2 separate regions of the Homo sapiens genome follow, and region 2 is linked to region 1. A link means that fine-mapping ties the variant in region 1 to the expression of a gene that starts in the linked region. Tissue or cell type: whole blood. Region 1 holds a variant in brackets; the other region holds the start of a gene. All regions are shown on one strand. Distances are from middle to middle.

Region 1 (4,860 bases):
TGTTTCCTTCAGTCATTCCTTCCTTATCGCTGACTACAGTAGTTCCCTCTTATTTTCAGTTTCGCTTTCCACAGTTTCAGCTACCTGCAGTCAACTGCAGACTGAAAATATTAAATGCAAAATTCCATAAATAAGCAACTCATAAGTTTTAAGTTGTGAACCATTCTGAGTACCATGATGAAATCTTACACTGTCCTGCTGGGATGGGAATCATCCCTTCGACCAGTGCACCTACAACATACACACTGTATACCCATTAGTCATGGGCATTAGTCAGCCTGCTCCTGACATGCAACCATGGACATCATCATGGCTCAGTGATCCAAGATCACTCAAAGCAGATGACTCTACTTTTCAAGTATCATCAGAAGGTCAGTAGTAGTCTAATGCCATGTCATAATGCCTAAGTCATTCACCTTCACCTCATTATTTAGGCATTGTGCCATCTCACATCATCTCAAGAAGGATAAGTACAGTACAATAAGATATTTAGAGAGAGACCACATTCACATAACTTTTATTACAGTATATTTTTATTATTATTGTTGCTAATCTCTTACTATGCCTAATTTACAAATAAAACTTTATCTTAGTTATGTATACATGGAAAAAACAGTACAGTTGGCTCTTCATATCTGTAGGTTCCACATCTCCCAATTCAACCAATCATGAGTTGAAAATATTAAAATAAAAAATAACAATACAACAATAAAATAATATAAAATTTAAAGTATAGAACAGGCTGGCCATGGTAGCTCACTCCCAGCACTTTGGGAGGCTGAGGTAGGAGGATTGCTTGAGCCCAGGAGTTTGAGACTAGCCTGGGAAATATAATGAGACTCATCTCTCAATTTAACATTTTAAAAATAGTGTAACAACAATTTACATAGCTTTTACATTATATTAGGCATTGTAAGTAATCTAGAGATGATTTAAAATATATGAGAGGATGTGTATAGGTTATATGTAAAATACTATACCATCTTATATGAGGGACTTGAGCATCCATGGATTTTGGTATCTTCAGTGATCTTGGAACCAATCTCCCTCAGATATCAAGGGAGGACTGTATAGAGGGTTTGGTACCATTGGGAGTTTCAGGTGTCCACTGGAGGTTTTGGAACATATCTTCCAAAGATTAGGGGGACTGCTGTACTTTATTTTCTGTTTCTTACAAAAAGGAAGTAAAAAGATGGTGGTATTGTTTGGATTTGTGTTCCCACCCAAATTTCATGTTGAATTGTAATATTAAATAAAAACCCCAATGTTGGAGGAGTGGCCTGGTGGGAGGTGATTGGATCATGGGGGCACACCTTCCTCCTTGCTGTTTTAGTAATAGTGAGTGAGTGAGTTCTCACGAGATCTGGTTGTTTAAAAGTGTGTAGCACCTCACCCTCTCTCTCTTCCTCCTGCTCTGGCCATGTAACACGTGCCTCCTTCCTCTTCCCTTTTTTGCCATGATTGTAAGCTTCCTGAGGCCTCCCCAGCCATGCTTCCTGTAGAGCCTGAGGAACTGTGAGTCAATTAGACCTCTTTTCTTTATAAATTACCCAGTCTCAGGTAGTTTTTTATACTATTATAAATGCAAGAATGAACTAGCATAGATGGTGTACTGGTTAACTTCATATGTCAACTTGACTGAGGTTTGGGATGCCCAGATACCTGATTAAACATTATTTTTGGGCTGGGCACAATGACTCACACCTGTAATCCTAGCATTTTGGAAGGCCAAGGCAGGTAGATCACTTGAGTCCAGGAGTTTGAGACCAGCCTGGGCAACATGGCAAAACCCCACCTCCACAAAAAAATACAAAAATTAGCTAGGCGTGGCGGCGCATGCCTGTAGTTCCAACTACTCAGGAGGCTGAGGTGGGAGGATTGCTTGTGCCGAGAGACAGAGGTTGCAGTGAGCTGTGATCATACAACTGCACTTCAGCCTGAATGATAGTGAGATCATACTATATATATATAAAATCTTCTGTTGGTTCTGTTTCTCCAAAGAACCCTGTCAAATACAGATAGAAACTAATATATGAGTCTCTTCAGTGTTGTAATGACTCTCCTGGGGGTTTGACATAACTTATTTTAACAGAAATTCAGAGAGGGTAGGTATTGTTCACCCTGATTTACACATGAGAAAACCAAGATCACAGATTTGTAAAATGTGAAAGTCAAGATTTCAAATCTCAACCTAACTACAAGACCTATGTTTTGGCCGGGTGCAGTGGCTCATACCTATAATCCTAGCACTTCGGGAGGCCAAAGTGGGAGGATTGCTTGAGCCTAGGAGTTTAAGATCAACCTGGGCAACATGGTGAGACCCTGTCTCTTAAAAAACAAACAAAAAAAGACTTAATGTTTTTGCCATCGTAGTTTCCAAACTGTGTTCCAGGGATCTTTGATGTTTCATAAA[T/G]AGAAAGCTGTGGGTCTTCTACCTCCACATCAGTCAGAGAAATCTCCACTTCTGGGAACTCTGTAAAGGGCTTTTCCATAAGAATTATTATGAAAATAAAGGGGAGATGGGAGTCCTGTGACTTAAAAAGGAAAAATAATTTAGGAAATCATTCCCTTATATCAAGCACTCTTCTCAAGATGTAACTGTGTTCCTTACCCATTTCTCTATGGAGACAGACTTATCACTAAATAGACCATCTTAGTGCTGTTATTACACGTGTTCTCAGAGAACATGCTTAAAATAGAAGAAATGCTAGGTATCTGGTAGGAAAATAATAGCCACAATATATTGAGCATCTATCATGTGTCATGATCTGTTCTAGGTGTCTAACAAACATAATCTCATTTAATCCCAATAACAGCGTTAGAAATAGACCTTGGAGTTGTAAGGAAAATGAGCACTTAGATAAAGGATTTTTCAGCAAAGCAAATTTACTTTTGTGCAGGGGGGTGCCGCCCATATGGCTGGTCGTTATGAGAGCGTATACAATAAAGGAGGGTGAAAGTTTTTATTTATTTATTTATTTATTTTTTGAGACGGAGTCTCCCTCTGTCGCCCAGGCTGGAGTGTAGTGGCACCGTCTGGCTTATTGCAAGCTCCGCCTCCCGGGTTCACGCCATTCTCCTGCCTCAGCCTCCCAAGTAGCTGGGACTACAGGCGCCCGCCACCGCGCCCGGCTAATTTTGTTTTTGTATTTTTAGTAGAGACGGCGTTTCACTGTGGTATCGATCTCCTGACCTCGTGATCCACCCGCCTCGGCCTCCCAAAGTGCTGGGATTACAGGCGTGAGCCACCTTGCCCGGCCAAAAGCTTTTAGTTTTGACGTAAATCTTGTCCCTGTGCCCTTTCCCCACTGGGTGGGGTTGGACTGTATAATTTAAACTAGACTTGATTGGATAAACATTTAAACTTTTTTTTAGATAAGGTGGGCACGTAAGGGAGAGAGGAGAGAGAGGGAAGGGGTTGTCTGTGGCAAGTTAGAGAGTCAGTTTTTTAAAAAATAAGGAAAGGAATGTGAGCTGGTGTTGATAACGTCACTGGTGTTGTGGCATGCCTGGGCATGTAGTAAAAGCAGAAAGAAAGAAGAAGAAAGAGAGGTGGAGGGGTATTGAGAATTAAAGAATAAAGGATTAATTAGGTTGGTTGAAGAGAAACCTTGTCATATTTTACACAGCCCTCCCCAGAGTAAGCAGGAGTATTCCCATTACATATTTGTGAGAACTTAAGGGAACTTGACCAAAGTAATAGTTGCAGCCAGGAGCTGATCCAGGTTTATCTGGCCCCAGGGCTCATTTTCTACACCATAACAACTCTTGGGGCAACTTACAGAGGAGATTTATATAGGGGACTTATTATAACTCATGAGGGCTACAGCATACCCAGCACTGAGCACATAAACCGCTTCCACCTACAGGTGATGACCAGGCAGTATTTTATTTTCTACAGTGCCTGCATTCATCTTTTCATTTGACTGTGCCTGTGAGAGGGCGCAGCACAACGCAAGCACACAGTGGGACGACAATAAAACTTGTCATACTATGCAGGGAGGCACAGTTTAGTTCAGAGCATTAGGTGATCCCCACCTTTCAGAGAGTAGAACATTGAAAGTGGAAAATTCTGAGCTGTTACACCATCTCCAGAGTCGTTGGTGGCTACCCATGCTAAGTCATTAGTCCTCTTTGCTTACTGCTGGCTGGCAGGTGAGGTAGGCTCCCTCAAGCTACTCAGAGATCTCTGTATCCTATTGCTCATCTCTCACATTATTTATTGCCCCTTTCTTGTGTTTTTCTGCTTTAAACTTTGGTTACTGGGCTCATTAAGTATATAAATTGCCTAAAGGCATAACTATATTCAATGTGCCACGTATTATGGTAAATTTTAAATATATATTCTTTGGGAAAGCTATCTTTTAAAAATTATAGCATTGAAATACATGACATTCTTACTCTAGGAAAAGACAAAGAAAATGAGGGGGGGGGTTCATATTTAAGAGTTGAGATGTTTCTTCTACTTTGTACTGAAGCATCTCAGGTGCCATAAGGGTGGGGCTAAAGGAATTCTTGCCTTGAGTGTTGAATGCATCAGCATGTCATGTGTGAATCTGAAAAAATATTCACCAGTGCAGATGGTGGCTGATGGGAGAAGGTACTCTGGGAAAAAAACATTTATTCTTCTCCATTTCCTTGTGCAGTGCTGCTAAGCTGACATGATTCTTGACTACATCTTTTGTCCATACCACTGGACAGGAGGAATTATAAAAGTTACACTAGGATTTTAGTATCCATTTTTCTAATAGCATTCCCCATTCTTTCTAACTCATCAGCTTTGGATTGTTATTTCTGTTTTATTGACATTAAACATAAGAAAGGTAAATTAGTAGTTTGATTAATTCAGAACAATCAGGA
Region 2 (4,860 bases), 150 kb after region 1:
TACTCCAAACGTAACAGTGGCTAAAGGACTCCACTAGATGACAGTCCTTTCTCTACGATGTCCTCTGAAGCATGTTTACTTGGCTGGAGAGTTGCAAGTGTCTATTCTGTAGGGCCCTTGTAATATTTCACCATCTCCCTTGTCATCTGATACACTGAAGCAACACTTTTAACCAATTTCTATTTTCATAGAATTCAGCTGTTTGCTACCTCTGCTCCTGCAGTATCCTGCAGCCAGTAGTTACAAGCACCTGGAAGGTTGGACAGGGAATACAAGAGAAGACTCTAAGACTTCTCTTAGAAGTCATAGAGTCCAGTAAACCACATTATGGAATCTGGACTACCCTAAGGGTAATAGTAGTCACTGGAAGATTTTAAGTAAGACAGTGTCATGATCAGATAGATGTTCTCAAAAGAACTTTCTGGCTGTTGTGGTGGGTAATATTAGAGTAAGAAAGAGGTAGAGAGGTGTGGTTAGTAGCCAACAGCACTGCTCTATGCTAGGGGTCAGCCGACTACACTCCGTTTTTCTGTGGCTCATGAGCTAAGAATACAAATGGTTTTTAAAATGTTTAAATAGTTGAAAATATGTAAAGATTCGTGTCATGTAAAAATTAAGGCTGTTTTCAAGCTCCAAACCTGAGTAGTAAGTCAGAACCATATGGTCGGCCAAGCTTATATTATTAACTATTTGGCTCTCACAGAAAAAGGTTCCTACCCCTTGCTCTAAGCAATTGGTGATGATGGCCTACAGTAGTGACAGTAGGAATGAAAAGACTCTGAATTGACATTTAGAGGGTTTAGGACTGACTCAAGAACGCCTTTAGGAGGTGGAACTCACAGGCCTAGACGGCATTGGTAGGGGTAAGGAATACTGCATTAGCCTCCTAACTGCTTTCTCTACTTCCATTCCTTGCCCCTCTGCAACCCATTCTCCACTCCGCAGCCATTTTTAAAAAGATGCCCCTCCCTACTTATGACTCTAAAATTGCTCTTCTCACTCTTCCCCTCAGGATATATTTCCAATTAAATATACCTAAGTGACTGCCCACCTCTGCAACCCAATGTCACATTCGAGTCTTACTGAACTACTTGACTGCATTTCCCGAGATCTCACCTCTTCTCGCCTGTACCCTGTGCGCGGAAAGTCAGCCCTCCACCTTCTCCCTGCTTCCACTCCCAAAATACTTCGTGGTTTTGCAGCTCTGGAGTATTTACCGTGTTGGCTGTTTAAATTTCTGCCTCCATCAGAAGGCAGAAACTGACTCGCGAACTATTCCATCCCCAGCCGATAGTAGACGCTTAAAAAAGAACGAAAGAAGGTGGGTGGAGGACTTCAGTAACATCAGGTGGCAGCCTCAATTTTATCGTTTGTGAAACGTGGATAGTAATCCCTCTATCACGTGGCTGTTGCAGGAATAAAGTGAAAAAACAAAACAGGCTAGCTTGTTCAATAAATGTGAGTTGAATTAAATCTGATTTGTGGTCAGTAGAAAAAGATGTGAATACTTGGAAAGGAAGACACATTTTTTTAAATATATGCCTGGTAAAACGGATCAGAAGGCAGGTCCCCATGGAGCACACCCTCGCCCTAAACATGCTGAACCCGGGCTGCCATAGCCTGCGTGGTCCCTCCAAGGTGACTGCTCCGACAAAAGGGTACGCTCTTCAAACGCATACGTTTAAGGCAATTCCAGAAACCCTCGGCTGTGCCGCGACTACACGGCCATTAAAGAAAAGACGACTCTATGCCCGCCGTAATGTTCTCAGATCACAGGGACCGTATTTGGAGCTGGGAGGGAGGGAAGCCTTTTCTTCACGGGGGGCTAAGGCGTCTTCGAGCCCCCTTCCAATCCCGGGTCCGGCCGGGTAATCCCTGCCCAGCGTTCGGGCGTGCCTTTTTTTCAGCCGAGACACAACCCTGAACGTGGGGCCCGCCAGCCCGGCGGCTGCCTCGTGGAAGTCACGTTCCTTCTGCCCGTCCTCTCGGGTACTCTATGGTTTTCGTGGCCGACTACTCTAATTCTAGTTCCGGTCTCTATGGCGGCCGGCGGAGGCAGGAACGGTTGTAGGTCGACTGAATTAGCCGCCAAAGGTCCAATGAGAATGGAGGACTGATAAAATATTAGCCAATAGAAGCTAGGGATTGGGGTCAGGTGGGCAGATTGACAGTACCACTGGCCAGTGAACAACGCCTAGGGCGGGTCGCTCGTAGGGCTTATCCCGCCTGTCCCGCCATTCTCGCTAGTTCGATCGGTAGCGGGAGCGGAGAGCGGACCCCAGAGAGCCCTGAGCAGCCCCACCGCCGCCGCCGGCCTAGTTACCATCACACCCCGGGAGGAGCCGCAGCTGCCGCAGCCGGCCCCAGTCACCATCACCGCAACCATGAGCAGCGAGGCCGAGACCCAGCAGCCGCCCGCCGCCCCCCCCGCCGCCCCCGCCCTCAGCGCCGCCGACACCAAGCCCGGCACTACGGGCAGCGGCGCAGGGAGCGGTGGCCCGGGCGGCCTCACATCGGCGGCGCCTGCCGGCGGGGACAAGAAGGTCATCGGTGAGGACCGGACAGGGACGGGGGTGGGGCCCTCGGGCAGCCCAGCAGCGGAACCGTTAGCCGGAGCTGGGCGAGCCGGCGGGCGCGCGGCCGGTGGGCACCGACTCCGCGGCGCGCGGCCGCCCATCCCCCCCGTCCCCCCCTCACTCCCTCTCGCGGGGACCCGCCCGGCAGGCGCGCGCGCACTGCCTCCCGCGCCCCCTGTGGACCCCGCGCGGCCGCGCGCCCCTCCCCCTGCGGCCGCGCGCCGCCGACCGCGTGTGCGACGGGGTCCCCTCCCCGCCGACCGGCCTCGTGCGCTCGGGCCCGCACGCCGTTGTTCGCGTCACCCCCACCCAGCTCCCTTCCGCGTGTGCTCGGAGGGCGCGGCGCACCGCCTACGCAGGCCGGAGCGGCTTCCCCTTCCCTCACGTGCTCTCCGTCCGCGGCCTGCGCACACACCCATCCTGGGGCCCGCGCCCCGGGCCTGCCCTGGAGCGCCCCGCGCTTCAGACTCACCCACGTGTGCGGCGGCGGCGGCGACTGCGTGGCCCCGCACCCGGGCGGTGGAGAGAAAGGGCTGTCAGGTGGCCGCGGCGGCCGGCGTGCGAGGGACCGGATGCCCAAGCCGGGCGGATTTGGAAAAGGATAGCTGGTAATCGTGGCTTGTTTTGCTTTGTTTTCTTTTCCAGCAACGAAGGTTTTGGGAACAGTAAAATGGTTCAATGTAAGGAACGGATATGGTTTCATCAACAGGTGAGCTGCCGGGCTCTGAAGCCTCCATCCCACCTTCTTGCTTGCTTCCTGCTCTGTCGGCTTCTCGGGGCTTGGGAAGCCCCAATCCACAGCTCTGTTCTGAAAGGCGTTTACTACCTCTGGTGTATTAGTATGATTTTTTGTTGTTGTTGTTTTCCTTGATTAGGGATTAGTGGATCTAGAGAATGCCTTTGTTTTGCAGCTAAATATTAATTTGAAGCTAACTTAAAAGGCTTCGTCACAGTACAAAGCAATTCAAAAGGCAAGCGGAGTGAATGAGCCATTCCTTAACAGGGTAAACGGGAAACTACGGTCCAGTACATTTTTATCCTTGTCATCTTTTTCTACTTTATTGAACTCGGTATTTGAGAATGTGATCCACTGACATCGGATATTTATACATTGTTAACGTTTTAGGGTAAGAGGATTTGACTATATGAGGTTTTGTCATCTTTACCGAGAGGTTGTATTGCCTTTGTTTCACGTTTCATTTTAATACCTGAGATAAATTTTGTCTTAGCACAGCTTTGACCAGAGAGAACTGTTTTTATTTGCTCATCCAGTAAATAATATATTTACAAGAAAGTGGTTTTTTTTCCTTCTTCCGTTCTTATTTTTCATTCTTCCTTGTCCTAGAATCATAACTGGTTAAGTCGATTTCTGTTAGATCCCTGGCTGTAGCTTATTAGAGTGGCCATAGTCACTGGTAACTTGACATTTTTCTTCCTGTTTGAAGGCAAAGCTGCAGACACGTCTTTAGGACTTACCCTTCGGGTTGTTTGTAGGAGTGGTGGTGGTAACGTGCAGTAGACGCACTGTATTCCATGGGCTCCCTTGTAAGCCGGGCATCATTTTCAAGATGGCTGCCAAGGCTAGTAGTGCTAGTTACATGGGTGCAGAGCACTGGGTATGCCAGTAGCAATCTTGGCCTCACAGGTATGGTACTTAGTGCCATCTCAGCATTGTCTTGCTTGCTTACTGTAGAAGACCTAAGCAGATGATTAAAAGAACAATGTGGAATGGACAACAAATGGGCAAAATCAAGCTTAAGGACAGAATCATTGCCTGATGAAAAACTGTTCATTAATCAATCATAGAGTATTGTGGAAACACTCAGAGTAAGAGATAAGCATTTGGTGATCTATTCTCTACTTTTGCAATTGTGGGAAAATATTTTGTTTCTTCCAAAATCTTAGGATTTTCCATCTTGTTATATACTGTTTGCTTTCCTGGCTGGCCGAAACTACGTTTTTCATTAATTTTTTGATAATGGCTTACTAGCAAGAAGGAAGGGAATGCTTATATATAATTGGCATACTGATAGCTTTTTAACTGATCTCTCTGAACTTTCTAGTGTTTTAGTTTGTATTTCTGTCTTACTCTGATTATCGTTACTAGTCTAACCCTTAAACCAGTGGTTTTCAAATTTAAGTGTGCTTACCTTGGGAGGGTGTGATGTAAGTGGTGAGTTCCTCCTTCTGAGCCTTGGATTCATTAGGTCTGGGTACATTTTTAACAGGAATGATAATGGTCTTCGGGCCATACCTTCAAAATCACTGCTTTTAACCCTTGACC

Evidence for each region. PIP is the estimated chance that this variant, and not a neighbour inherited with it, causes the effect.
Region 2: YBX1 starts here. The variant in region 1 is fine-mapped to the expression of YBX1 in whole blood (INTERVAL, PIP above 0.99).

What each region holds. Positions count from the first base shown.
Region 1 is chr1:42,529,797-42,534,656 of GRCh38, forward strand. The region is part of intron 6 of CCDC30 (coiled-coil domain containing 30); the gene reads left to right. Among named protein-coding and RNA genes, the nearest start is that of CCDC30, 69 kb to the left of the region's middle. The variant T/G (reference allele first, on the strand shown) is at 2,414.
Region 2 is chr1:42,680,182-42,685,041 of GRCh38, forward strand. It overlaps YBX1 (Y-box binding protein 1), which reads left to right and starts at 2,237. Exons shown (of 8, transcript NM_004559.5): 1 at 2,237-2,550; 2 at 3,222-3,285. The coding sequence starts at 2,385. It also overlaps a transcript of PPIH not described here. RefSeq lists an enhancer at 1,893-1,942 and silencers at 2,383-2,582, 2,773-2,882, 2,993-3,142.